Linked DNA regions of Homo sapiens. The protein of the gene in region 1 interacts with the protein of each later gene in a pairwise test. Each region holds a gene or a part of one and is shown on either strand. Other genes may lie near its edges.

Region 1 (16,015 bases):
AATGTCCTCATTTCCCTTCCTGTATTTCATGAATGCTGACTTAAGTTGTGACAACGGCTGTACTTCCATATTAATTCATTCCCAGTCTTTTCATCAAAACGTAAATTTCAATCCTGAAACCAGGATTGGGATGCTAAAAGTAACACAGCAGTAATATGTTTAGAGATCTGCTCTTATCTTAATGAAAAACACGGGCTCCCCAAATAAGTAGAGTCAGAAGGGGAAACACTCGTCCTGGGCTGCTTTGTATACTAACATTAACAGCCAAAAAGAGAACCAAACTACTCTAGACTGAAGGTCAAACACATTCCAGGGCGTCCTGTACGCAATACACACATCAGGGAACAGACCTCAACCCAACACTGCTTCAACACCAACTTCTATTCACAATTTCTACAAAATCTTCTGGCCAGGCATTTTTCTAGACATTCCCTTAGTTTTAAAAATGAACAAAAAGCTGCAGCATTTCATTGGTGCTCAAGTAATAATTAACTTGCTAAGTACACATCAGCTAAGAACACTACACCAAATTTATTCCACACACCCACAAGAGGGATGCTCCAGATTTTATTCTGCTTAAATTACAGGAAAACCTGTTGAAGCTTACAACAAAGCAACAGAGAATGGATCTGAAGTAGAAGAGGGGGTTGGATGCTGAGACGCATGGCAGGCAGACCGAACCCTGAATGTGGGATTACACATGCTTCAAAGATCTTTACTCCGCTAAACATCTTTGTTAAATCTACTTTATAATCCTCACTGTAGACCTTACAGATAGCAATCTGAGGAGGAGAATCTTAATTAGAGCTCTGGAAACTGGCTCTCTAACGAGACCGACTTTCCAAATAATTGTTCACATGGCCCTCTCCCCTTCCAGACCTCACATGGAAGGGCAGTCACGTGGCATGGATCTGTCAGAACAGTTCACCAACATCCAGAGGCCTCTCCAGGAAGGGCAGATGATACCGTGAGACCTGCAGAGTCCACGCCCGCCATCCCCACTCTGCCACTACGCTTTCTCTCGCTGCAAAGCCATTTGCAGAACATGTACAAACCACGGAGCTAAGAACACAGAGCTAACAGGACTGTCCGTTTGGTGACAGATTTTTAGGTAGTCCATAGAATTTCTACTTCTACAAAAACAGAAAACTACGTTTCAGAGGATGTTTCCAATTTAAGCAGATTTAAAGAGAAGAAAAGGAAAGATCTTAAAATAGAACTTCATTCAGCTTGCTGGATAGGTTCTCTGTTCTGTGAAAAGTATATAAATGATACACATATTTGACTAGGTTGAAATAGGTAAAATATGACAAAAATTTGGTTATAATACTCAACCAACACTAGTAGCTTTAAGTCAAAGACAAGAAGCAAACAGTTACGTGGACAGGTTGTTGGTCCCCAGAGCCACAGCACTCCTGCACAGGCTCATATTAATTAGCGCAATATTAAATGCCCCCGAGTTAGGCAAAGAAGACCCTGGTGGACATGGGCAATGGGCAAGGAGCGAAGTTCCAGCAAGCACCAGCCTGGCCTGGGCCGGGTGCACGCCAAGGCACACCAAGCTGTAGTGCAGTCTCTGGCAGCCCCCACGGGTGTTCCTCAACTGCCCCTCCATCTCTTCACCTGACACGCATCTTTCCACACTTCCTTCATGCCCTAGAAATTAGTTAAGACACACTCCAAGTGAATAATTAGCATGCCTAATTTTAGCCAACAAAATATACTGATTTTTCCTAAAGGAGTTTCTACACTGTGATACCAATTGTCCTGCCAGGAATCTCTGAAGAAATAACTTGGGCTGATAATTCTTCTGCCAAAAAATGTATCTTGTAATGAATACGAGGTCCAATGTGTAAATATTATTCTATCACTTTTGTTCATTTCCAAAAGCATATAAACGTAAGTCTACTGTACACTACTTACTTTCTCTGTAAAGCAAGGACCACAGAATAAATGACCTACAAATTTCCAGCTTCTCTCTCACCTTTAAATCTCAATATTTACACACAGTTTCTTATATACTTACCAACCACACTGCCCACAATCCCAACACCTCCCCGCCTCCCACTAAATTACTACTGGAAAAGTCTGGCACTGCCCTTTCTGGAAAATACCATAAATCTATTTTGGGACACCACCTCGTTTGGCTGGTTGTTTCCTTATTTTTTTTTTCTTGGTAGTAAAAATATCCCAATCTCTTAAATGTGTAGGTGAAAAATACTAGTTTCGAAATGATTCCTTAAAAAGCAACAATAAAAATACTCTTCTTCACTTGAAAGAAAAAACCCAAAAGGCAGTGTTCATACAAAGTCATGAAGAGAATTTAAATTAAGGTTTTGGTTCCATTTTGTCTCAACTTTAACTTTTAACAGTTCTTTATAGGCTTTTGAAACCTACTTTGGAGAAGGAAAAAAAGTAGGAATAACTGTTCTTCAAAAATTTTACAAAAACAGTTTGACTCAGCTTCAGTTGTTAAATTTGGGGTATTTTTCTATGTTGAAACAGTATTTGAAAATTCTAACTTATACTGGACAGATAAAATGATAAAAAAGACATTCTACTCTTCAGAGGATTATCAAATGCTGTTGATTATGCTAGTTTCTCTTGAAATAAACTAATTATGGGTATTTTAGATAGTGATATATAGTCTGTAGACTTAATACATAGGCCATATGCTAGTGGCACATAACCAACAGAGAAAGAATTCCTTGCATTAATAGAAGCACAAAAAATATATTACAACTTCCAAAATAACTTTTTTTTTTTTTTTTTTTTTGAGATAGTCTGGCTCTGTTGCCCAGGCTGGAGTGCAACGGCACAATCACAGCTCACTCCAGCCTCGACCTCCTGGACTCAAGCCATCCTCCCACCTCAGCCTCCCAAGTAGCTGGGACTACAGGTGTACCACCACCCCAGCATTTTTTTTTTTTTTTTTTTGGTAGGAACGAGGTTTTGCTGTTACCCAGGCTGGTCTTGAACTCCTGGCCTCAAGCAATCCTCCCACCTGCGCCTCCCAAAGTGCTGCGATTACAGGCGTGAGCCATCGCACCCAGCCCAAAATAATGTTTTTCTAAACAGCAGTTACATTTTTCATGTGCTACACACCTATCAGATGGCATGGATCCCAGGGTGGGTGTTGACTGAAGACTCTCTTGTTTTTTTGTGTGTGTGGTATTACTGAATATATAAAGTTTAAAGGTAATTTTAAAAAGGTCCCTTTTAAAATGCACAGATTTATAAAGTACACATGGGTGAGATTAGTAAACAAATTGAGCCCCACCTATTGCTGATGAGTGCTATGATCACCCCTTTTCTATTTCCACTATCATTCTCAGAGGGCAGGACATGAAAAGCCAACACATTCGCTCATTTACTCCTGCAGTCTTTTAACACTGATTGACCAGCTTCTATGTGCCAGGCACTTTTTGCTAGGTGCTAAACACAGAAGATGCAGGGGCTAAAAGCCTGCCCCGAAAGGCTCACACTCCACCAGGACATATTGACATATAACTACAATATCTGCGCAGCAAGACTGAGGTATGTACAAAGTGCAACACACGCACTTTCTAGCTTGGACTGCTGCCTTGGAGGTCCCGGTTTCAGAACCTTCAGTATTACAACAAAGCACTGCTACCATGAATAAACCTACCACACGTCAGGAGTTTTCCCGTGTTATTTCACTTTACTCTCACTTAAACCTTCCGGTATTTCTAAGTGTCCCCATGTAGAAGAGGAAAAAGTTAGTTCTAAGAAGTCATTTGCTTGTCCAGGATCACCAATTACCAACTAGAAGAGCCAGGATTCCAAGCCAGGTCTTCTCAGTTCAGCATGCCACTACCCCGCCTCTGCCTCTCGACCAAAACCTAGACGAGGTACTAAGTGAAGACCACATTAGAGAAGTTTTGGCACATCATCTCTGCACTGGGTAACTTTGCCGGTGTGCAACAACCTCTGAATGGCACGCCAGATGGTAGCAGTAGTTGTTCTAAGTATGAGCCTGCAAATACACTGACTGAAAAAAGTTGGAAAGACTTCTCAAAGTCAGAACAAAACCATAATGATGCTTTTGATAATAGAGTTCAAAATAGAGTTTGGAGATCAGTATCAGTGATAACAATTTCAATGTATCCCTGGTCTTTTACTCACTTTACGCCACTTAAATCACTCAGGCCCTTTTGTTTCCATCTTCATGGCTTACTACGAATAAACACATCTACAATACAGCAGCCGGGCCAAAAAAAATATTCACACGCACTTCTATACCGAGCCCAAAGAGCAACAGGGAATTTTGAAGAAGCTGCCACAGGGCAGATGGTTAAAAAAAAAAAAAAAATGGAAAAGGGCATCAAATGAGAGCAATAAAAACATATTTACCTGTCTCTTCACCTATTTTGAAAACACCAACGCCAGAGCCATCTCTAATGGAGTATCGGATCTCCCCATCTCTTCTGGCGTCCTCATCATGAGCCGACACCGTCATTACCAATGAACCAACAGGTGCATCTTCTTTCACTGTCCCCTTTTCCACAAAGCTGGAAAACACGGGTGGGTGCAGGTTCTCATTCACATCAACCACCTCAACTTCAACATAGCAAGTAGAAGACAGAGAAACTGGCTTTCCCTTGTCTTTGGCCCTCACAGTGAGATTATACACTTGCTTCTTCTCAAAGTCCAACTGCTGGACGATCCTAACTGCTCCACTGAGTTTATCCACATCGAAGTTTCCTTCTCCGTGGTCCAGAAGGCTGTATCTCACCTGACCAGACTGACCTAAATCAGGATCGTGGGCTTCTAACCACATGATGACGGTTCCTTCTGGAAGATCCTCTCGGACTTTCACACGATAATTAGGTGGAATAAATGTAGGTGGGTTGTCATTAACATCTTCTAGTGATACTTTCACAACGACAGTGGAGAACAGCTGAGGCTCTTCTCTGGCTTGGTCCCTGGCCTCAATCTTTAAGGAGTGCTCATGCTGCAGCTCTCGATCCAGAGGGCGTGCGATGTTAACAACACCCGTCACGCTGTCAATTGAAAATGTGTCTGTGTCTGTAACAATTGAGTACGTCACGTGTCCGTTGGGCCCCAGGTCTTTATCTGTGGCTTCAACCTGGATGATTTCACTATGTACCTCCTTGTCTTCACTCACTTCCACAAAATAGCTCTCCTGTAAAAACTCGGGTGGATTATCATTGGCATCGACAACCACGACATGTAGAAGACGCCACGCAGCCTTCTGGGGTATCCCAAGGTCATAGACGGTAATATTCAGGGTGTATTTGTCTGTTGTTTCACGGTCAAGAGGAGATAAAATTTTCAGCATTCCTGTTTCCATATCAATCATGAAGCAACTATCCTCATTTCCTCCAGAAACAGCATAGACCAGTTTTCCATTGAAGCCAGTGTCAAGGTCAGTGGAGTTCATGAAAATTACACTGGAACCCACAGGCTGGTTTTCCTTTACCTGAATACCAGTCGGAAGAGTGCTTCTAAACTGCGGTATGTGAGCATTGACAGAGTGAGAATCGAAGAAAATATCCTCCACCTCTCCCTGGTTGTGTAATTTATTTGCCTGCAGGAGCTTCTCTGCCAGCATTTTGGCAACACCAGTCTCTTCACACTGCAAGTTTACCAGCTTGTGACTGGCAGCCACTGTTATGTTGATATATAATGGTGTGGCAAAATTTTCTCCATCTGTAGCTGTGATTCTCAGACTGTGGAAAGACACCTTTGCACCTAAGCCATCCATTAGCGATCGCTTTAATGACAATACCCCCGAGTTGGGGTTTAAACTAAAGAAATCCAGTTCATTTCCAGCTTCAATCTGATACTGTACCAACTGAAGTTCATCTGCATCAATAGCAGAAACAGTGGTTATTTGCTCTCCCACGCCTAGATCTCTGGGAATTGTCCCTTCACAATTTATTTTCTCAAACAAAGGTGTGTTGTCATTCAAGTTATTGAGAGTAATTGTAGCAAGGACTTCGACTTCCCGGCGGTACGGCAAGCCCCAGTCTGATGCACGAATCCTCAGAGTATAAACCCGAGGCATCAGTTCGTAGTCCAGGTTTTCTGACGTACTCACGGCACCAGTGAAATGGTCAATCGCAAACGGCACATGATTTAAATTTGCGATACTGTATGTCACGTACCCGTTCTCACCCTCATCAGGGTCTACGGCACTCAGGCTCATGACAGTAGTACCAATGGGCACGTTCTCATCAAAAGCAGCTTTGTACGCTGTCTGGGTAAATTCAGGGGGATTGCTATTTGCACCTAAGACTTTCACCAAGACCTTGGTGGACGCTTTTCTGTCACTTGTTGTTACTTCAAGTTCAAAATGGGCTGCCTGCTGTCTTTTAACTGGTTCTAAAATAGAAATGAGACCAGTGTTGTAATTTAAACTGAATTTAGCTTTTCCAGGTGTACTTTTAAAAACATACCTCAAATGGGAATAAGCAGGAATGGCCTTTACCATGACCACAGGTGTGTTGGGAGGAGCAAATTCACTTATTTCTGCTCTGTAAACATCCTTTTCAAACTTGACTGGCCCGGCTTTGAACTGTGGAGAAGTCACGTGAATGACTTTAACAGAAGAGAACTGGGGCGGAGTTCCTTTATCTTTAGCCTGTAGTGTGAGATTGTAGCCGAAAGGATGACTGTCCCAATCAATGCCACCGATGGCTTTGACTTTATACTCCTTACTCCCTGGAAAGGACCTCACTGTTCTAAACTGCTGGAGAAGGTCACCTGCCACGATGCTTAAAGATGCTATGTCACCATTGGCACCCTGATCGCAGTCATCCACTGTCACAATTGCATATGCTGGGTCCCTGTCCAGTTCTGATGGTGACAATGTCACTGCTGTTATCACCGGAGCACATTCATTGGCCTGTTCGATGTGCACCGTTAGCTTGGCCATGCTGCTGATGCCACTGCTCCCATACAACTTCATGCCACGGTCCGCAGCGAGGATTTCCATCTCATAGAGCTTGGTCTCTAGGTAATCAAGTCTACCAGTTAACACTATCACACCACTGGTTGGGTGAATAGCAAACATATCTGTTCGATCTTTAAAACTGTAGTAAAATTCCCCGTTGGTTCCTATGTCTGCATCCGTGGCGCTGACTCTTGCGATACTGGTCCTTATAGCTGTGTTTTCAGGTAAAGAAACGCTGTATGAGGTGGGTGAGAATAACGGTCTCAAGTCATTTGTATCCAGCACCTGCACCCTGACCTTTGTTCGCGCCTCCACATTAGTATTTTTTTCAAGTGCTTTCACTATCAATGTGTAGTGATCCTTCACTTCTCTATTAAGAATAGCTGTATTTCCTCCTTTGGTCCTTATTCTTAGAAAGCAAAAGTCTCCGAGAATGTACTCTTCAGCTTTGAACAGGTTTTCACTGTCTCCGGAAACAATTTTGTACCTTACTTCCCACGCTGGATGTGTAATGTAAACACCCATCTTGACAGGATGCCCCACATAAGTCTTAGCTGCAGAGTTCTCCTGCACGGTGACGTTGTACTCGAGGTGTGTAAACTGCAGAGGAGTCTGTTCAAGTCGTTGGCTGCCATCACTGTCTCCAAAATGTTGGAAGAGAAGGAGCAGAAGCAGGAGCAAAGCCAAATGTCTCCCCATTGCTTAACTGTCGGGAATCTGAAACAGAAGAAATCAGAATCGTTACCTTGGGGAAATAAAACAAGCAAAAGTGTGTACATTGTTTTAAACTTCTCATTAAAAAAATATTTTCCATACACATGGAATATAAATAAATGCAACGGTTTGGGATGTTTTTCATGTTTTCCAATATAAGTATCAACATTCTTGTAACATGTCTAGAATTATTAAGCTTAACAAAAACTTCCTTTTCATTTTTGAACGACAAGGTCCTCTCTTTCATATTTAAACGACTCAAAAATCTTCATGAGTATCAAATGAAAGGCTACTAACTGTAACAACTAAGTTATATTTTTATATTTAAATCGTTAAGGCAAATATAAGCAACTGTTAAAAATTAATGAACATTGTTTACATTTACTTACATACAATGAATTAAATGATCAAAAGCTGGCAAACATAATGCCCCTACAGTATTGTGAGAATGCAAAGCTTCTGACAACTAATTCAGAAAAAAACAAAAACCAGCAGTGGTTTTACATGGCGCTCCATAAGAACAGCTTGTAATCTCATTTCAAAATGTATCCTGAAATTATATTATTTCTGTATAAGAATGGTTAAGTTCACTCCCTACATAATGTAAGGGTTTATTGTCTCATTTCGCTCTATGTAACTACTTAAAAGTATTAAAATAATTATATCAAGTATAATACTTATCAGCAACATAAGCCCCAAAGAAAGGCAATTTACAAAAGAAAAACCAGAATTCAGCAGCCTGATGTCAAACAGCATTTTTCCTCTCTAAGTCAGTGAAGCAAACTTTACCAACTATATCAATGTTTTATCACCACTGCTGTCAACAACCAGTTGTTCACAGAATGTCTCCTATCTTCAGGGCATCGAACAACCTGTCACCCTGGGCCCCTCCATGAGAAGATGACACACACACACAAAAGCTAAATCTTCTAAGCTAACACACGTCAAGGGTCAAATCAGTCTATTAATACATGGTGGCAGACTCTGCAGGACAGTCCCTGGGTGACTGGCGGAGAAAAGAGAGAAACTGAAGAAATGAAGAAAACGTTGCCTTTAACAATGACAAATGGGAAGGTGGGCGAAGTCCACTGGGCTGAGGTCTGGCCAGGGAAGCAGGACAGTTATTTTCAGATCAACTGTTCCCCTTTGCCAACAAATTCATCTTGTAAATCAACACAGCTTCACAAAGGACAGCACTGTCATCTTGCAAAGTGACTCTCAAATTAATATTCACAAAATGTGAATGCTACCAGAGGTAAATGAAGAGCAAACTGGAGGGTGGGTTTGACAGCCCAGTTGAAATTGGTACGACAACATTAATTTATAGTATCTTAACTTAGCTACTGCCAACTCTGCCCCATAAGTCATTGCCTTAGGGGGAAAAAAAGACCTGATGTGCTTAAAGCAATTAAAGCTTAATTGATATTGAACCACGTTCAAGTTGGCCACCCTAACTTGTTCTTTAGCTATGATGCCTTCTCCTCTCCAGATAAAGTCAGAAATTAGACAGATTTTTGGCTTCTAGGAGAACAATTATCATTTAAACAAAATAAGAAAACAATTTTCTCCCAAAACTATCTCTTTAAGTATCTCCATTTAGTCAACAGTTCTAATACTCAGGGAAATTTGAATATTATAAAATAATCTTGTAATTTTATCAAAACAAATAAAAAGTTCAACCTACAGGTATGGAGGACCTTATCAGACAGAACCTTGCATGGTGTTAAGGAATAAAAGACAAAGATCCCAATCCCAAGGGATTTACAAACTAGAAATAAAAATACATATAAAGAGGCTGGTCACGGTGGCTCACACCTGTAATCCCAGAACTTTGGGAGGCCAATGCAGCCGGATCCCTTGAGCTCAGGAGTTCGAGACCAGCCTGGCCAAAACATGGTGAAACCCCATCTCTACTAAAAATACAAAAATTAGCAGGATATGGTGGAGCAAGCCTGTAATCTCAGTTACTCCAGAGGCTGAGGCAGGAGAATCACTTGAACCCGGGAGGCAGAGATTGCAGTGAGCCGAGATCGCGCCACTGCACTCCAGCCTGGGCAACAGAGCTAGACTCTGTCTCAAAAACAAAAAAACAAAACCAGAAACACTTGGATGATGTTTAGCAAGCAGTGTCTTTTGTTTTAGGAGTCACATTATGTTTTAGGAGACATTTTTACCATCATCCATTGTACAACAAAATATTATACCAGGATTCTATTGCAAGTACTAGAAGTATTTTTGCTTAATTCTACGTATAAAGTTATCATGCAGCCATTAAAAGATAGCACTCTGTATGTTGACATATGTCTAGCTATATAAACTGGAAAAACGAAGCTGATCCTATTTATGTTTATTTAAAAGAGAGGAGAAGGGGGGTAGATACAATGTACCCACGGATATACTTTAAAATGGACAGAAAAGTCTAGGCAGACAAGCAACTGTTAACAGTGGTAACTTCTGGAGAACCGGTAGAGAAACAGGTAGCTGAGGGAATGATTACTGTGGCATTTTTCTCTACTGTGGTTTTTTTTTAGCATGAGTATGTGTTGTCTTTATCATCCACTCACCCCTTTCATTAATTATTTAATTCCTTTTACATAGGTTTAATGAGCATCTACTATGTATCAGGTGCAGTTCTAGACGCTGGGGATTCAAAAGTGAACCAAATTACCAACAAGTCCTGATGGAAGATACATTTCCTGGCCAGACACAGACAGACAAGTAAACAGAGTATATCCGATGCTGATAATTAAGTGCTAAGGAGAAAACTAAAGCAGGGCAAAGAGAGACCAGGGTCAGGAACCTGAAGGAAAAGAGGGAACCCTAAATCCAAAGGGTCAGGGCTTACACTAGTGACATGCTGGGCAACTCTTAGATTCTTTGGGGAAACGTAGAGTGTTCAATATGATTCCTGGTCCCCACCAGCATGAAGCCTGTGGCATCCCCCTCATCACCCAGCTGTGATGACTAAAAATACCTCTATCTCGAGACATTGCCAAACACCCTCTAGGGCAGAAAGTCACACCCCGCAGAGAAGCACTAGATTAGGGAAGCCAGAAAGAGACCACGTGGCTGGAGCACAGCGGTTGAGGGACAGCGGTAAGGCCGGGGCACATCCTGGGAGAGAACCTATCATGAAGGGGGTTCTTTTTAAAAATAAACCTTATTTTAGAATGCTTTTAGACTTACAGAAAAGTTGCAAAGAGAGCTTCCCCTACTGTTAACATCTCACTTTAGTACATTATACTAGATACAACTAACAAACCAGTACTGACACATCATCAACTACAGTCCATACTTCACTCAAATTTGCTCATTTTACCCAAGGCCTTCTCTCCATCCTAGAATCCCTTCCAAGACACCACCTTACATTTAGCTGTCATGTCTCCTAAGGCTCCTCTGGAATGTACGTTTCTCAGATTTTCCTTGCTTTTAATGATCTGGACAGTTTCCAGAAGTACTAGTCAGGTATTTTGTAGGATGTCCCTCAACTGGAATCTGACGTTTCTCTCCTGATTAGATTGGGGTTCTGTTTTGGGGAGAAAAGCCACAGAGGTAGAGTCGTTTCCACCACACCGTAGCAAGCGGGTAAAATCAACACGATTTATCGATGTTGACGCTGCTCCTGACCACGTGACTGAGGTAGTATCTGCCAGGTTTCCTCACAGTCAGGTTACTTTCACCCCTCCCTGTACTGTATTCTTGGTAAGGAAGTCACTGCATGTAGCCCATTCTTAAGAGACAGAGAGTTTCGCTACTCAAAATATTTATAATTCTTCTAGAAACTGATTTGTCTATCTTCCTCCATTTATTTATTCAATTTTTTTTCTTTTTTAGACAGAGTCTCGCTCTCTCACCCAGGCTGGAGTGCAGTGGCGCGATCACGGCTCACTGAAGCTTTGAGCTTTCCGGGCCCCCGTCTCAGCCTCCTGAGTAGCTGGGACTATAGGTGCGTCTGTAGATTTAGACTGACAGAATTTTACATACTCAGGAACCACCAGCACGCCTGGCTCATGTTTGTATTTTTTATAGAGACGGGGTTTCACCACGTTGCCCAGGCTGGTCTCAAACACCCAGGCTCAAGCGATCTGCCCAACTCGGCCTCCCGAACTGCTAGGATTACAGGTGTGAGCCACTGCATCCAACCTGAATCTTTTTTTTTCTCAAGATCCGTCTGGACTCATGGATAAAGGACAATTTTTAGGACTTTAGAGTTTAGTATGAATCAAATGAGAAGTCCCCCAGCGGATTCTGAACCGAGGAGTGCCACGGTCTCAGTAAAATGGAAAAACCTGTGGGCAGCCAGGGCAGAAGCTGGAGGGCGACCAGAGCAGTCAGAGGCTGCAGCCACAACACAGGTGGAGCGCGTGTGGGCTGGGGCACAACGGGGGTGGGGGGCAGATTGTGAATCTATTTCAAGGTTGCCTGATGCTGGAGTGGGGAGAGGGAGGGAAAGGAGGAGAGAACAGTACCAGAGAAGATGCCAAAGACTGCTCAGCGTAGAGAACAAGGGGGCCAGGAACCGAGAGGGAGACAGGAGGAGAAGCAGCCTCAGGGAGCAGATCGGGAGGTCAGTTTTGGACAGGGTAAGATGGGAACAGCTACGGGCTATCCAAGTAAAGATTGTGAGTGGGCAGCAGATATGTGGGAGACTCCAGCCGGCAGATAGAAATTTGAGAGTTGTCTAAATATGAAAGACGGTATTTAAAACCACAGAACTGAATGAGATCACCAAGGAAGAGAGCAGGCAGAAGAAAAAAAAAATCCAAGAGCAGAACCCCAAGATTTGAAGGGTCCAAACGGGAGGCCCTGACAGGGGAGATGTCGGCCACTGAGGGAGGAAAGGGAACCACAGCATAGTGGTGTGATAAGAAACAGTGAGTAAATAAAGATTTTTCTACAGCTGAAGCCTAACATTAGAACTTGGAGTTCTATATAATATAAATACTCACTAATCCAGCTGGGCGCGGTGGCTCACGCCTGTAATCCCAGCACTTCGGGAGGCCGAGGCAGGCGGATCACGAGGTCAAGAGACCGAGACCATCCTGGCCAACATGGTGAAACCCTGTCTCTACTAAAAATACAAAAAGTAGCTGGGTGCGGTGGTGTGCGCCTGTAGTCCCAGCTACTTGGGAGGCAGAGGCAGGAGAATCGCGTGAACAAGGGAGACGGAGGTTGCACTGAGCTGAGATCGCACCACTGCACTCCAGCCTAGGTGACAGAGCAAGACTCTGTCTCAAAAACAAAAAAAAAAGTACTTGCTGATGCGCCACGCTGCTTCCCCCTCCATCCCCCCACCAGAAGGCTCTGGCACTGTTCCATCCCCTAAGACACACAGACCATGGCCAACACGTCAGACTGCTTTGGCTGTTCTCTCCCCATGCTGTCCCAGGTGCTCAGTCCCACCACAGCCCCCACCACCACCCACTCATCCCCAACTGGATTCCCAAACATGCAATTACCTTCCACATCCTACTCAGCAGTTCTCACGGGACACAATACAGCTGGGACGGACTTGTGGACCACATTCCTAACTGAAATCTTTGAAAAACCTGAATGTACTCTGCAAACTTGGCTAACAGAATGCTACTGTGAGTAGAATAAATTATTAAATGAAAAAATACACTTTTTGGAAGACATTGTTAACCGTGCAGTAATGTAACCAAGAACCACGAATTCAGGTTTCACTATAAAAACCACCCTGATCAAAACAATGGCTGTGGCTCTCATGCAAAACAAACAGTAAAGCTGAAGCGGGGAGAGACTCCAACACCATTTCATCTAAAAAGGACCTTATCGCCTAGACTCCTTTGCTTATGGAAATTAAACTCCAAAGACCATCTGAGCCAAGGGCTATACTTTGATATTTAGAAGGTGATCACACTACTTAAACTCACTGCAATTTGGGATTTCTAAAATGCATTTTCCGAAGCCAAAACAAAGAGTGTTTACTTAGTCTAGCCTTGAAGGAGAAGGGCTCCCAGTCTAAAGCTTAAATATCTTTAGCATAGATCTCTGAAAATCTATAAATACGGCAGAAAAATAACTTTTGCAGTAAAAATCAGATATTAATATCTTCATATTTCTTCATTAGGGAGACCTTCATGTAAAATGCTTCCATCAATTACTGTGACTGCACATTCTTCACAAAACAGAACACAGCCCCTGTGCTGAAAACCTAACTGCATATATTCAAGTGTTTAGATGACCTCAAGCTCAAGTCTTCGAAGGGTTTCACACGCCACAGAGACAGGACATTAGGTGAGACACAGCATCACACAATGCACCAATTCTGTTAAACGCCGCATATTTATTACTGAGCGGTCACAATTCTTACAAGCACAAGTAGTCATTCTAGCCTTTATGGAACAGGACATTATTAAACTTTTCATTTCACATGTTATGATAAAAACACAAAATTATTAAGTTGAGAACTCTGTGTTCTCCCTCACTGTGCTCTTCTCCACTCTCATTTTCTATCAACATAGTGAAAGCGTCAGTAGAATTTAACTCATGATTAAAATTTGGAATTTCGAGTTCAGTTCAGTGTCACATTTTTAAAGTATTTTTAAGAGATCTCTAAATTGCAAGCATCTTTCTTCCCCCGAGACAGGGTCTTGCTCTATCTCCCAGGCTGGAGAGCAGTGGCACCATCATAGCTCACTGCAGCACCAACCTTCCAGGCTCAAGTGATCCTCCCGCCTCCGCCTCCGGGGTACCTGGGCGTACCACCATGCCCAGCTAATTTTTTGTATTTTTGTAGAGATGGGGTTTCACCATGTTGCCCAGGCTGGTCTCGAACTCCTGAGCTCAACTGATCGACCTGCCTGGACCTCCCAAAATGTTGGGATTACAGTTGTGAGCCACTGGGCCTGGCCGGCAAACACATTTTCAAAGCAGGATCATGAAGTTGTCAAGAGATTATGAATTGTAAACGAGTTTTTTTGTTTGTTTGTTTGTTTTGGAGACAGTCTTGTTCTGTCACCTAGACTGGAGCACAGCGGTGCAATCGTGGCTCACTGCAACCTCTGCCTTCTGGGTTCAAGCGATTCTCATGCCTCAGCCTCCTGAGTAGCTAGGAATACAGGCATGCACCACCATGACCAGCTAACTTTTGTATTTTAGTAGAGACGGCCAGGCTAATCTCGAATTCCTGGCTGCAAGTCATCCACCCACCTCAGCCTCCCAAAGTGCTGGGATTACAGGCATGAGCCACCGCACCCAGCGTAAATGGCTTTTTAAAAATACTGTATATTAAAAAGAATGTTGAATGATTTCTAAAATTTCAGACATTCCAAATAAAATTTACAACAGGAAAAAAAAAACTCTCTATTTTTCTAGTTCAATTATCATAGCCATGTCGGTACTTTTAAAAGCTTTCATCCTTACACTGAAATACTAATGAGTAGATCCTGTTTATTTTCTGGGTGTACACTAATTCTTTTCAACCCATCTTCATATGATTTTCAGCATGAACGGAGGAAGCTGTGACCCTAGAAATTGAGCAGCAGCCTTAGGCTTGGTATATGTCATTTAATCACTTCTGCTAACTCCATTTATATGTTGTTATCTTTGACTGGGGCTGCAATAATCTGGTAACTCTAGCAAGACATACTTTAAATATTGCCTTCACATGATCAACCACCGGTTCCAATTTAACCCTGAGAATGGTCTTTACTGACAATGACAGTGTGGAACTACAATCTGGCTTTTTCAGAAAACTTCACCATGTACATGATTTAATCAATCCAAAATAGATTCCTGAAGTGTTCCTGCCCTTAAGAAAGATAAACAGATGTCCTATTTTTCAAACAGCCTCTATATAAAACCTAGTTATCTACATGAACCTATAAAACATGTCTGTTGGCATTACGAAGATGACGGGTTCTAGTTGTTCTGTGCTCCTGGGAACGACAAGACAGGACAGGTAGGCAGCGGCTGTGTGTCTATTTCTGGCAGGGTGAGGCATTCCTGTGCTATTCTCTTCTTTCCCCTCTCTATATATTCCTTATCCTCCAACCACTTTCTCCTCATCCACATTCCAGGACAAACTTTGCCCAAGGAGAAGCTCAATGGACTGTTGACCTCTTGTGAATGGAGATCATCTCATCTAATGTATTTTTCTCCACAAACAGAAGTAATTTAAATGACATCTTGGCAGAGTAGCCAATAATCAACAATGGCCACTTCTTCCACTCCCAAGTTGGTAAGTAAGACTTTATTTTATACGTTGAATTGGGCTCCCTGTATAATTAGATTCGGTCAACCCTTCACTAAATGACAGACCAGGAAAGTGAATGTTCCATGTACAGCAAGAAAACGGAAATCTTCAGGGAGAAAAGTCCATCTTCCCTCCTCCTCTTA
Region 2 (15,213 bases), about 18 Mb from region 1:
TTTTTTTGAGATGGGAGTCTCACTCTGTTGCCCAGGCTGGAGTGCAGTGGTGCAATCTTGGCTCACTGCAACCTCCATTTCCCGGGTTCAAGTGATTCTCCTGCCTCTGCTTTCTGAGTAGCTGGGATTGCAGGCACACACCACGCCCGGCTAATTTTTTTGTATTTTCAGTAGAGATGGGGTTTTGCCATCTTGGCCAGGGTGGTCTCGAACTCCTGAGCTCAGGCAATTCACCTGCCTCGGCCTCTCAAAGTGCTGGGATTACAGGCATGAGCCATGGAGCCCAGCCACAATTTATGATATTTATTTTTATAGTGCTGTACAATAATTTTCTATAGTTCTAACCCCCTAAAACCAGTTTTAAAATGAGCCATTACCCTAAAAAAGTGTTCTCTCCCTACAAATGAAATCATTTTATCTTTCCTCTCATCTGTTGTGCTCTTAGTAAAGCTTTGAAATTTTGTCCAGAATTCACTGAATCTCTTACTCTAAGAGTCAACCTTTTTCCTGCTGTATTGGTCTGCTTTCCAGGGATAGCACCTTCTGTCCCTGGAGTTGGTCCAGTTACTTGTTTGCTTTCTCTTGGTCACAAAGCCTCCCTCCCTCCCTCCAGGCATTGATCTGCAGTTTTCCTTCAAGCCCTGAGGGCATCTCTCCTGTGTTCCCTCTCATTTGTGGTATTTGTGTGACTCTTTTGAGTGATGGTTCACTTTGCCCAGACTCTCCCTAGGCACTGGCATGGGCACTGCAGCCTCCCTCCCCCAGTGCATTCCTTTTCAGTTGCCAGATGTCCTCAGTCTCTACGGCTTCTGCATTCCGGTCCCTTCCTCTTAGAGGGGCTCCTTTCTAACAGCAGGCTCCTGCTGTTCAGTTCATCTGAAAAGAAGGAATTGCTAGCTCAGACAGGTGATGGCATTTCAGGGAGCGGGGGATGCACATCAGATAGGGAACATGGAGAATGTAATGACAGGACAGATGGGCCTGGGCATGCTGGAATTCTTTGATAGGTTTTTTTGTATAACCATTTAAATTTTTACAAGTGGGAAAGGGGTCTTTGGAGAAGATTTCTACCCAAGTTTATATTTTTATAATCCATATGTTCAATGGAATATTAAATATAATAGCCAATCTGACCAACTTTCCACAGCCTTTGCTTTCATACAGTGATGGTGATAGTATTTATTTACCTTGGATTCTTAGATCTGTCTCACAGTAAAAATAACAGGAAAAATGTGCGGTAACATATAGGAAAATGTTATATTATTCACTGGGAATGAAAGTTTTTGATTAATTAAAAGCCACCAAGTATAGAATTTAGGGATTACTTGTGTTCATATTTTAAACATTTCAACACAATAAAAAGTGCTCAATGCTGAAAATGAAGGAAAGATTAACTTTTATATCAGTATGATTGAGAAAACATTTCAGAATCTAAGAATAATCCTTGATTTACAATACAAGCATCAACAACTCTTGCCCTGGCAAAATGCAGAAGGAGCCCAGGGTTCCTTTGGTAAAAATTCTACTGACTGGTAGAATTTCACAGAAGTATTTTTCAATTTATATTATTGGGACACTATGAGGTAGGATTCATCTACAGATTATAATGAGAACAAGCATAAAATTTCCTCTCAAACCATGACCCTATCTCATACATCTAAAGTAAAAGAATGTGCCAGGCATGGTGGCTCATGCCTGTAATCCCAGCACTTTGGGAGGCCAAGGTGGGTGGATCACGAGGTCAGGAGTTCAAGACCAGCCTGACCAAGATGGTGAAACCCCATCTCTACTAAAAATACAAAAAAAAAAAAAAAAAAAAAAATAGCCAGGCGCGGTGGCGGGCACCTGTAATCCCAGCTACTCGGGAGGCTGAGGCAGAGAAATGCTTGAACCCGGGAGGTGGAGGTTGCAGTGAGCCACAGTCGCATCACTGCACTCCATCCAGCCTGACAGAGCGAGACTCCATCTCAAAAAAAAAAAAAAAAAAAAAAAAGAATGTGACTGGGGCAGCCGGTGCTGTCAATGGAAAGAAGCAACCACGTGGTATAAAGACTTAAGCAATCTCATAGTAAGAAAGGATGAACCTTGAAGTGTGTTGACAGGTCTTGGTGTCAGCAGAGAGAATTCTCTTAGGAACAAAAGGATTCTTCTGTGTTTGTTAGAGAGACTGAAGAAAACAAGCAAGAAATAGTGCTATATCCTGGAGGCAGAAAATGTATAATTGATGACAGCAGAAACAATAGAACAAATATATTAGGCTCTATTTTAGAGGGATTGAGAAAAAAATAATTAGGAAATTGCAAAGAGAAAGTGGAAAGAAAATATTTCAGAAGGGATGGCAAATAAAAGAAAGTATATGACAGGTTTTTCTTCCAAAGAAAAAAAATATATATATAAAGAGTTCAGGGAGACACAGCAAGTCATCTTTATCTGTGTGTATTTTTAAATGTAGGAATTAAACTGAGAACCACATACCTATAAGCTCATCTCCTAAATTGGGGGAAAAAAAAAAATCTATGTATGATCTTTGATCAGGGATTAAGCTAGAACACTTGGAAACATACAAATTGGATAGAGATAGATTTACAGAAAGGCAGCTGGGCTTAACCAGCATGATTAATTTCTTTGAATCAGTGACAAGGAACCCACTGGGTGAAGCAATGGACGTAATTTACTTGGACTTGGAGCAAGCTACAAAGGGAACTAGTATGGTTATGCCAGTGAAATACTTAATTGAATATTAGATTGCTGTGGCAACTGGTAGAAAGCAGTAAGTGGTTACTCACCCAGGTCAGAGTGATGAACTGAGTGCCTCCCAGAGCAACATGGGAGCCAATTTGGGCTATACCAGGGGCGATTAGAAATGAAAATGTATGAACTACAGAGAACACCAGAGAGGCTAGAAAAATAAAGGAAACAGGAAATGTATACTAATAAAAGATTGTAAATGCCCATTCAGATGGAAGTTAAAATACCATAGCATTGGAAGTCTGTGGAGCTTCTTTATATTGCAAGACTCTGTTTCTTGAATTGTACCTTGGCAGTTATCACCAAAAGTTGAGTTAAGGTCACACAGCCACCAAGAGGCAGAGGCCATTCAGGGACCGGTCTGTGAGCCACTCTGGTCACCCCATAATGCCTCCACAGCGCTTTGTTCAAAGGGAACAAGGGGTGCTTTCCAACCAAGGTGCCAGTCAGCTTTATACATTTTTCCTTTCTTTTTTTTTTTTTTTTGCCTTTTTTTTAAACAAAAAATTTTATTCATTCATATATCTTATTTTTTAAATTGTGGTAAAGTATACATGAAAATTTACTATTTTTTCAAGTGTACAATTCAGTGGCATTGAGTACATTCATGTTGTCATACAACCATTCACTGCTATCCGTTTCTAGAACTTTTTCTCATCCTAAACTGAATCTGTACTCATTAAGCACTAACTCTTCATTCCCCCTCCTCCAGGCCCTGCAACCACCCTTCTACTTTCTCTCCCCGTAAGTGACTTCTGGGCATCTCATAAGTGGAATCATGCAATAGTCTTCCTTCTGTGTGCATGCAGCTTATTTCACTTAGCATAACGTTTGCAAGGTTCATCCCTGTTGTAGCACGTGTCAGAATTTCATTCCTTTTTAAGGAGCTTTGTACATTTTAAAAAACAGTTTTTCTATACAACTAGGCTTTTTCTTTTTGCCACTTGACATGCTTATTAAGAATTAAAGGTACTATGCTAAGTCCTATGAGGCATATAAAGTGAATTTAGCATCATCTCATCCTTCAAGCAGCTTATGGTTTGGTAGAATAAACGAGACGGACACAGATGGTAATAATACATTGTAGACTGTGCTAAGTGCTGTAAGACATATACATGGAGGCCTCTGCGATTTAGTCAAGCATGAAATTGCCTCCAGCCATGGGGCTGGAGATTTCACAGGGGAGAACTGGAGCCAGGCTTTGAGAGAGTGATAGGGTATGGGTGGGAGAGATAGCGTCAAAGGAGACTCCCACTAGAAGGAACTGCATGAGCCAAGGTGTGGCGTGGGGGAAGTAAAGGCCCTGAATAGGGGACATGTTCAGGCTTAGGGGAGTGTTTGGGACTTTTGTGGTGATAGTAGTAGCTACAGCTGTGTAAAAAGAGATTAGGGCCTGATCACCAAGGGCTTCGCATACCAGGCTGAGGATTAACCTTGCTCACAGGCATTGTAAAGCTGTTAATGATTTTTTGGCAGTGGGTAGCTGCAAATAGAGTTGCCACTTAAGAATATTAGTATGTGAGCTCTGCATAGACTGGGTTGGGGACAGGAAGAGACTTGAAGGAGGCCAAGGTGGGTGGATCACCAGGTCAGGAGTTAGAGACCAGCCTGGCCAATATATTGAAACCCTGTCTCTATTGAAAATACAAAAATTAGTCGGGCATGATGGCACACACCTGTAATCCCAGCTACTCAGGAGGCTGAGGCAGGAAAATTGCTTGAACCCAGGAGGCGGAGTTTGTGGTGAGCTGAGATCGTGCCATTGCACTCTAGCCTGGGTGACAAGAGCGAAACTCAGTCTTAAAAAAAAAAGATATTTGACGAGGTGGAAGGTAATGAAGTCATCAACCAGGATAGTGACAGTGACAATGAAGAGGAGTGGATGGGATGCAGATTTTGAAGGTAGATCAGCAGGTCCCATGTAGGTCATGGGAGAGTATTCATTGACCCCTGAGGTTCAGAACTTCCCCAAACCCCTGTTCATATAAAGAAAAGCATAATCCGAGTGAGGCAGAGGGTGGAGCAGCAGATGTAAAGGGCCTCTGCAGCTGTGCCTTACATCTGTTTGTTGGTCTGTAAATGTTCTACTTGGCAAAGCCTTTCAATGCCTGAAATAGTTGGCCAGTTATGCCCAGTATTTGGCCTTACAAATCTGTATTAGAAAACTGCAAACCACCTCACAAGGCTCAAGATCAGGACCTGAGCTGGAAGATTTCTAAGTAGAGTCTATTACTCCTGCACCTGGTAGTCTTCATACGATCAAGACTGTGTCACAGTTTCCATTATGCACATAGTTTCTCATTCCACCCGCCCCCCCAGAGGTTTATAAAACTTAGCAATGAAAATTTGCTCCCACTGGGAACTTGGCAGGAAGAGTATGTTCTTAGCCCAGCAGCAGTTCTAGTTCAAAATTTTTTTTTGACAAAATTGGTTTAGTGCATTTTATAAAATGCATATATTAATCTAATTCACTTCAAGTTTTTCAATAACCATTTTTATTCCATTTCACCTTTAAGGCAGCTCACAGAGAACAAGTAGGGAATATATCTCATGAGAAGTCTACTCTGAATATGTTTTGAGTCACTTGTACATTTTTTCCCAGAATTATAAAGCTTTGCCTTAAATGTTTAACTTGCCCCACATGGCAACTACATCATTGCTTTTTCATGGATTTTTAGCATGTTGACATTAGACTTGAGAAATGTCATCTGGATCCTTCTTTCAGATAAATTCATGATGAAATTATTTGTCTTGCTTTTAAAGGTGTCAGAGAGCTGGGCATAGCGGCTTATGTCTATAATCCCAGCACTTTCTGGGGCTGAGGCTGGAAGATTGCTTGAGCCAAGGAGTTCAAGACCAGCCTGGGCAATATAGTGAGATGCCATCCCTACAAAAAGTAAAAAGATTAACCAGGTTTGGTGGCACACACCTGTAGTCCCAGCCGGAAGGCTGAGGTAGGAAGATCAGTTAAGCCTGGGAGGTCAAGGCTACAGTGAGCTGTGATTGCATCACTGCACACCAGCCTGGGCAACAAAGTAAGACCGTCTCAAAATAAAGATATCAAAGAAGGGATTCCAAAACCCTAACTGTGTTGATCTAAAGTTTGTCAAATCTCATTTTCAGGAAATGAGGCCTGAGTTGTGGCCTGAGTTCGTTTCCTAGTTAGAGATGTCCAGCCACTGACTGGCCCATTCTTCACCTCCTTGAAGTGCCAGGCCTCTGCCTACTCTTGTCTAAGCCATATGATCATAATGGGAGCTAATATTTTCAGGTTGAACTCTTTGTCAGACACCATACGAAGAGCATCATACTTGTTTAACTCATTACAGTCCTATTCTACAGATGAGGAAACAGACTGAGAGCTGAGATAACTGGCCCAAAGTTAAGCTGCTCTAACTGACCTTAAAGACTGTGTCAATCCTTAGGCCAGTGTTTCTCCCGCTGTGTCATGCTTCCTTCCTCATTCCATGCTTGATCAAACCCCAGCCTTGTGGTCTATGAATATTCATGTTTGAATTAGCTGAACCTTTCTCAGATATGATAAGCCAACTTCTGTGCTGTGCTTTTGCTTCAGATCTTGGGTAGTAATTTGGTCCCTGTGCCAAAGGAGCTCAGGTTGTTCAAGCAGCCACTTACCTTTTGCAGAGATGTGTTTTTTTAGTGTAATAGTCTGGGACTCTTGCTGTGGTCTTTCTTAAATGGATTTTGGTTTATATGGAATGGGAATTGGTGAAAGGGGCAGGCTGTAATAGGTTTCAGAAGTTTGGGGACAGTTGTATAGAATTTGTTCTGCCTATCATTTTGAAGCCATAATATTTTTCACTTTCAGTCAGGAGTGGGTCCCACGAGGCTATACACTCATTTTCTGACTTTGAGAACCAAATGAAAGTAGAAACCCAAAATCAACTTTATGACTGACTACTCATTACTTAGCATCAAACAGTGAAAGATGTATTTATTAGATATCTGTTGCCATGTAACCAGTTACGCCCAAAAGTCAGTGGCTTAAAACAATAATAAGCATGTATTATTTCACACTTTCTGTGGGTCACATAATTATGGAACAGCTCATCTGGTTGGTTCTGGCTTAGAGTATTTCTTGAGATTGTAGTCAAGACATCAGCCTGAGCTGATGCTCAACTGGGGCTGGAGGATCCCCTTCTAAGATGGCTTATTCACATCACTTTTTCTGGTTAGTTTAGGCTTTTGGAAAGAGGCCTCAGTGCCTTACCATGTGTTTCCTCTCCATAGAGATGTTGAGTGTCCTCACAACATGGCAGCCAGTTTTCCTGAGTGACCGATCCAAGAGAAAGTAAAGTGGAAGCCATAATGCCTTTTATGATCTAGCCTCAGAAATCACCCACTGTCATTTCTGCAACATTTTATTGGCCACACAGGTCATCCTGTGCATCATAGGAGGAGACTACACAAGAGTGTGAATACCAGGAAGCAAGGATCACTAGGGCCATCTTGGAGGTTGGCTACCATACACCACCATTCTTTTCCCCCCTTTTGTTGAGAAGAGGAGTAATGCAAATAATGCTGGAAAAATAGAGAAAGATAAAAGGATATAGAGTGTAAAACAAGTCACCTCCCTCTCGTTTCCTACAAGCTGTAATTCTGCACAGGAAGGCTAAGGAGCATGGAGGCAGGGGCACAGATAATATTAAACCAACTAAGCTTCTGCCATTTTTAAGCGATAATGACACCTTTCCCACTAACTCCAAATTCTGAGCCAAGGAGAAACAGACCCAAATGTCAGAATAATAGAGATGAGAATGTCAACCTCGTTACTGGTAATGTTGGATTGAACTTGTGGCCATAGCCCTCCCCTCCATGTCTGGACCTTGGGACTACCTTCCCAAGGGATAATCTGGGTATGTGGGGCAGATTACCTTCCTCAGAATTGCTGCCTCGCCCATGTCAAACACCAGTGTAAGGGACGTAGGGACACAGAGACAGACTTCCAGACTCACCTTCCTGACCTCTGTGTGCTTACAACATAGAGGTGGAGCAGAGCCTCCTTAGCCTGTGGGCAGGCGGTTCAGAGAGGACTGAACCCCCCCTGCTCAGCTACTTCTCCCAGTCTCACCAATCAAATAAATTCACTCCTGTTTCCTTGGAGAAGAGGGAGGGATAGAAATGATACCCCTCTCGGGAAATGAAATGAAACTCTCCTTTATGGCCAAGATACAAACACTGGTAGGGAACAAGGATGGCTGTCCTTGTTAAGGTCACTCAGATGAACCAGTCTGGGCCATCAGTAGTGGGTTGACACACATATCCAAATCCAGTCTTTGTTAGTACTAAGTCTCTACTAAACAGAAAATAGCAGTATTTTGAGTTGTTTTACAATCATAAATGAATTAATGTTATTTCCTATTTATGTTGAAGGTTCGTGCAGACTAACAGTACACCATTTTTTAAAATCACTGCTTTGAATCGCCTTAACCAAAATCTCTTTCTTTTCTAGGCACAGGGTGGTGGTTTCCTATCCTCCTCAGAGTGAGGCAGAACTTGAACTTAAAGAAGGAGATATTGTGTTTGTTCATAAAAAACGAGAGGATGGCTGGTTCAAAGGCACATTACAACGTAATGGGAAAACTGGCCTTTTCCCAGGAAGCTTTGTGGAAAACATATGAGGAGACTGACACTGAAGAAGCTTAAAATCACTTCACACAACAAAGTAGCACAAAGCAGTTTAACAGAAAGAGCACATTTGTGGACTTCCAGATGGTCAGGAGATGAGCAAAGGATTGGTATGTGACTCTGATGCCCCAGCACAGTTACCCCAGCGAGCAGAATGAAGAAGATGTTTGTGTGGGTTTTGTTAGTCTGGATTCGGATGTATAAGGTGTGCCTTGTACTGTCTGATTTACTACACAGAGAAACTTTTTTTTTTTTTTAAGATATATGACTAAAATGGACAATTGTTTACAAGGCTTAACTAATTTATTTGCTTTTTTAAACTTGAACTTTTCGTATAATAGATACGTTCTTTGGATTATGATTTTAAGAAATTATTAATTTATGAAATGATAGGTAAGGAGAAGCTGGATTATCTCCTGTTGAGAGCAAGAGATTCGTTTTGACATAGAGTGAATGCATTTTCCCCTCTCCTCCTCCCTGCTACCATTATATTTTGGGGTTATGTTTTGCTTCTTTAAGATAGAAATCCCAGTTCTCTAATTTGGTTTTCTTCTTTGGGAAACCAAACATACAAATGAATCAGTATCAATTAGGGCCTGGGGTAGAGAGACAGAAACTTGAGAGAAGAGAAGTTAGTGATTCCCTCTCTTTCTAGTTTGGTAGGAATCACCCTGAAGACCTAGTCCTCAATTTAATTGTGTGGGTTTTTAATTTTCCTAGAATGAAGTGACTGAAACAATGAGAAAGAATACAGCACAACCCTTGAACAAAATGTATTTAGAAATATATTTAGTTTTATAGCAGAAGCAGCTCAATTGTTTGGTTGGAAAGTAGGGGAAATTGAAGTTGTAGTCACTGTCTGAGAATGGCTATGAAGCGTCATTTCACATTTTACCCCAACTGACCTGCATGCCCAGGACACAAGTAAAACATTTGTGAGATAGTGGTGGTAAGTGATGCACTCGTGTTAAGTCAAAGGCTATAAGAAACACTGTGAAAAGTTCATATTCATCCATTGTGATTCTTTCCCCACGTCTTGCATGTATTACTGGATTCCCACAGTAATATAGACTGTGCATGGTGTGTATATTTCATTGCGATTTCCTGTTAAGATGAGTTTGTACTCAGAATTGACCAATTCAGGAGGTGTAAAAATAAACAGTGTTCTCTTCTCTACCCCAAAGCCACTACTGACCAAGGTCTCTTCAGTGCACTCGCTCCCTCTCTGGCTAAGGCATGCATTAGCCACTACACAAGTCATTAGTGAAAGTGGTCTTTTATGTCCTCCCAGCAGACAGACATCAAGGATGAGTTAACCAGGAGACTACTCCTGTGACTGTGGAGCTCTGGAAGGCTTGGTGGGAGTGAATTTGCCCACACCTTACAATTGTGGCAGGATCCAGAAGAGCCTGTCTTTTTATATCCATTCCTTGATGTCATTGGCCTCTCCCACCGATTTCATTACGGTGCCACGCAGTCATGGATCTGGGTAGTCCGGAAAACAAAAGGAGGGAAGACAGCCTGGTAATGAATAAGATCCTTACCACAGTTTTCTCATGGGAAATACATAATAAACCCTTTCATCTTTTTTTTTTTCCTTTAAGAATTAAAACTGGGAAATAGAAACATGAACTGAAAAGTCTTGCAATGACAAGAGGTTTCATGGTCTTAAAAAGATACTTTATGTGGTTGAAGATGAAATCATTCCTAAATTAACCTTTTTTTTAAAAAAAAACAATGTATATTATGTTCCTGTGTGTTGAATTTAAAAAAAAAATACTTTACTTGGATATTCATGTAATATATAAAGGTTTGGTGAAATGAACTTTAGTTAGGAAAAAGCTGGCATCAGCTTTCATCTGTGTAAGTTGACACCAATGTGTCATAATATTCTTTATTTTGGGAAATTAGTGTATTTTATAAAAATTTTAAAAAGAAAAAAGACTACTACAGGTTAAGATAATTTTTTTACCTGTCTTTTCTCCATATTTTAAGCTATGTGATTGAAGTACCTCTGTTCATAGTTTCCTGGTATAAAGTTGGTTAAAATTTCATCTGTTAATAGATCATTAGGTAATATAATGTATGGGTTTTCTATTGGTTTTTTGCAGACAGTAGAGGGAGATTTTGTAACAAGGGCTTGTTACACAGTGATATGGTAATGATAAAATTGCGATTTATCACTCCTTTTCATGTTAATAATTTGAGGACTGGATAAAAGGTTTCAAGATTAAAATTTGATGTTCAAACCTTTGTATGTCCCTTGTGTCAGTCCTTAAAATTTTGCTTTTTAAAAAAACAAAACAAAACAAAAAACACGGGACACATTTGACCTAATTTGTACCTCACAAAAATTCTTTGCATACATCTCAAGCGGAAGATGTCTACAGGAATCAATTTGGTGATTATGACACATTTTACCTCTGCAACTAACAAACCTTGTTTATTTCTCCAAGAAGCTTAAAAAGAGTTTGTGGAGTCGCACGAGGTCATGTATGGCACTTGTGTTCCCCTCTTCCTCTTCCAGTTACTAAAATAATCTGGTGAGTGCTAGTTGTCTTAGCCATAGAAGGAAAAGCAGACCTATCAACCAATAGTATGATAACCCGTAAGTCTCAGCATGGCTTGGGGACAAAATCTTTAGATTCACCATGGTTTTAATTTCCCATGAAATGAAAGGCCCATGTAAGTCATGTTAAAAACTATTTTCTTATTAACTTTTGGCTACTGTCAAATGACTTATCAGAATTGAAAATCAGGAATTCTAGGTTGTATTGTAGCTTTTCCAAAAACTATCTCTGTAGCCACCTGGGCAAGTTGATTATTACTTAGTTTCCTCCTTTTGGTGTCCCATCTACCCCACTGGGTGAGGATGAGGAGCAAAGGAGATAATCTCACTGTTTTTGAAAAGTGCTATTTTAATGTGTGGCATTAAGTTTATCTCTGGTTTCAAATATTCATCTCACTCTCTTGGAGTATATGATATAATGCTTTTCAGGGTCTGATTGGTTTTAGAAGGAACAAATTAAGGTGATGTTTCCAACTGCTATGCATTTAACTTTCTGTTCCTATAATAGAACATATTTGCATACCTCCAGAAGAACATTCAATTCTCTGAATATTTCAATCCAGAGCTATAAACAACATTAGAATTCGGCTTTGGAAATTGTGTTTAATAGATGTTTGACTAAGTTTAATAGATGTTTGACTAAGTTTAATAGATGTTTGACTAACAACTCTTTGTGTGTATTCATCAAATTTTTAAAAATGTGTTTTGAATCAAACTATGTCATTATCAATGTCACATCCTATTTAAATTACTTTTTTTCCAGGAAAAATAATTAGCAGCCTACCAAAATCAATAAGATATTTATAAGAGATTAGTCATGTCCAGGCAAAGGGGTGTAGCCCTCGCTAACTCCCTGTGGCTGCAGGCTGTAATGGGGTATGCTGGGGAACTTTGCCCTGTCCATTAGTATCACCAGAGGCAGGAAGGAGCTATTAGAGTGAGTAGTCACCTGCCAATGTGAACAGCGACAGTTTTAAAATACCTTCTCTCAGGTTTACAGATGAACATCCCTTGGATTCCTTTTGTGTTTCCTACTAATAAATTTCTGATTTGGCTACTTTTCCATTTCAGAAACACCACCTGCATCTCACTCAGTGCAAATTCTTACTGTACTATGGCCATCCAGGCTCTGTAACCATGCTGCAGGCACCTGCGAGTGGCATTAATCTTTGAGTCCCATTCAATACTATTATAGAGTCAGACTATTCTAATAAGTCTCCAAAGATAATGGAATTATCCCAGCCAGTAACCAGTGAGCCAGCTGCCACTTCTATTGCCTACACCTTAGATACGAAATTTGGTTCCAAGAGGTCTCTGACCTTGGGGTTGAATCTTTCAAGCTCTGAATCCTTGTGAAAGTACTAGAAGAAGCCATGATAGACTTTGGCATGAGAGGGCATTCCTAAATATGATTCAAAATTTAGAAACTGTAAAAAAAAGAAAACCTTGATAAATTGTACAAAATATCAAAATAGTTACATGACAAAACACCATAATCAAAGTCAAAAGAATAAACAATGAAATAAATCATTTGTAAGTCCTGTAGCAGGCAAAGAGATAATTTCCTTTACATATAAAAAAAAACTTCTACAAATAAGAAAAAAAACCCAAAGTAACACTAACCAAGGATTTGTGACAGAAATTGCCAATTGTCGTGGCCGAGCGCGGTGGCTCAAGCCTGTATTCCCAGCACTTTGGGAGGCCGAGGCGGGTGGATCACAAGGTCAGGAGATCGAGACCATCCTGGCTAACACGGTGAAACCCCGTCTCTACTAAAAATACAAAAAATTAGCCGGGCGTGGTGGCAGGTGCCTGTAGTCCCAGCTGCTCGGGAGGCTGAGGAAGGAGAATGGTGTGAACCTGGGAGGTGGAGCTTGCAGTGAGCCGAGATCGCGCCACTGCACTCCAGCCTGGGAGACAGAGCAAGACTCCGTCTCAAAAAAAAAAAAAAAAAAAAAGAAATTGCCAATTGTCTCTGAATATTTTCATTTTCTTTTTTCTTATTAACTGATATCTGGGCTTTGTGCTTAGTTAAAAAGCTCATTTTTGTCAGGGTGTGGTGGCTCATGCCTGTAATCCCAGCACTTTGGGAGGCCAAGGCAAGCAGATCACCTGAGGTCGGGAGTTTTGAGACCAGCCTGGCCAACCAACATTGTGAAACCCCGTCTCTACTAAAATACAAAAATTAGCCACCTGTGGTGGTGCATGCCTGTAGTCCCAGCTACTTGGGAGGCTGAGGCTCAAGAATCATTTGAACCCGGAGGTGGAGGTTACAGTGAGTAGAGATCGCCCCACTGCACTCCAGCCTGGGCCGCAGAGGCAGACTCAGTCTCGGAAAAACAAAACAAAAAAACTCATTTTCCAGTCTCCCTTAAGGTTAGGTGCAGCCTTGTTACTAAGTTCTTGCTGAGACACAAATGAAAATATCACAGGGAACTTCTGGTAAGGCTTCTTAAAAGGGAGAGGAGGCCAGGCGCAGTGGCTCACGCCTGTAATCTCAGCATTTTGGGAGGCCGAGGCGGGTGGATTGCCTGAGGTCAGGAGTTCAAGACCAGCCTGGCCAACGTGATGAAACCCTGTCTCTACTAAAAATACAAAAATTAGCCAAGCATGGTGGCACACGCCTGTAATCCCCGCTACTCGGGAAGCTGAGGCAGGAGAATCACTTGAACCCGGGAGGCAAAGGTTGTAGTGAGCCAAGATTGCACCACTACGCTCCAGCCTGGGCAAGAAGAGCAAGACTCTGTCTCAAAAAAAAAAAAACTTAAAAAAAAATTTTTTTTTAGTTTTTTTTTTAATAGTTATTGTGAGAACATAGGTGACTGTTGGAAACAGAATGCTTGTTCCCAGGTACTACAAGGAAAAATCAGCATTCAGACAAAAAGTTCTCTCAGCAAGGCAATTTTACTTTCTGCAGAAAGGGTGCTCTTAGCAGATGGAACAATGGCAAGAGCACCCTTTCTAAATAAAAGCAATTTATTGTAGAATTGTAGAAAGTAAATATAGTTTCCTCTTCAAAGTTTCCCTTCTTGTTAAAGGATAATAATAAATCATAAATGTTAGAAATAATTTAAAGACTAACTTCCTCCAAGCCTCCTTGCTTTGTGCTAATAACTCTTTGTTAAGCCCTAGCCTATGTAGCTGTTAGACATGCTCACAAGGCACATAAGACATTCTATGTCTTTGTACCTTAACCAAGATATTTGTGCTAGACATGCTCACAGGCACGTTCCAGCTTGCAGCTTATGCCCCTTCCCTATTTGGCATAAGCAACTTCCTCTTTTCCTTCGTTCTCCCTTGCCTTTACCTATTTAGGACAGTTTTAAATTATTAGCCAGTCAGGTTTTAGTTTAGATTGTGCGGTCTGGCTCCAGCCAGTGGACACAGGACACAGTAGCAGGGACAAGCTGCGTAAGGGATAAAAATTGCTTCCCTCCTTTGTTCAGGTGTGCTCTCGCCATTGTTCCATCTGCGAAGAGCACCCTTTCTGCAGAAAGTAAAATTGTCTCACTGAGAGAACTTTTTGTCTGAATGCTGATTTTTCCTTGCAGTACCAAGGAACAAGCATTCTGTTTCTAAATAAACGTTTTACATATAACAGTGACTTTTAAGATGCAAGAGATGTACTAATTTGTTGGAGAAAGAAGGAAGGAACATGATACCCTAGTAAACTTGAGCCTTCATGCCAGCCTGAACTACTCATCTTTAAATATGATTTATTTGAGAATAAACCTCTTGAGTCCAAGCTACTGTAGTCTTAGCCACCACCAACCTGACTGGTATCAATATAAACTGACAGTTCATTAAAAATATATTTTTTATGTAAATATTATTTCTATATTATTTATATATATATACACTAAAAGATGTTCCACCTAATTCGTAATGTAAATGCAATTAACAACAATGAAATACTTTTTACCTATAAAATGGGAAATTTCTAAAAATTTGAAATGTTGGCTAAATGAGGGACATTCAGTATTTTGCTGATGACAATGTATAGGGAAGGCAATATAGATAGAAAATACCAAAATTACAAGTGTTGTTTACCCATTCTACTTTTAAGAATTTGTTCCAATATACTTATTCATCAAGTGTAAAATGACAGTACCATATTCTTTGCAGTGTTGTTTATAATAGCAAAATATTGGAAACAACCTAAATGTTTACCAATATGGAAATGGTTAAATGGATTATGGTAAATCTATACAGCAGTATACTGCATAACCATAAAAAAGAATGAGGAA

Evidence for each region.
Region 2: the proteins of FAT1 (region 1) and SH3RF1 interact in a two-hybrid assay, tested with the Homo sapiens proteins (one study listed by BioGRID).

What each region holds. Positions count from the first base shown.
Region 1 is NC_000004.12:186,702,189-186,718,203, forward strand, and holds part of FAT1 (protocadherin Fat 1 isoform 1 precursor), read right to left. Parts: intron 7,658-16,015; 5' UTR 7,640-7,657; coding exon 4,375-7,639; intron 1-4,374.
Region 2 is NC_000004.12:169,089,696-169,104,908, reverse strand, and holds the end of SH3RF1 (E3 ubiquitin-protein ligase SH3RF1), read left to right. Parts: intron 1-8,221; coding exon 8,222-8,390; 3' UTR 8,391-10,650; downstream 10,651-15,213. UniProt on the Homo sapiens protein: Has E3 ubiquitin-protein ligase activity. In the absence of an external substrate, it can catalyze self-ubiquitination. Stimulates ubiquitination of potassium channel KCNJ1, enhancing it's dynamin-dependent and clathrin-independent endocytosis.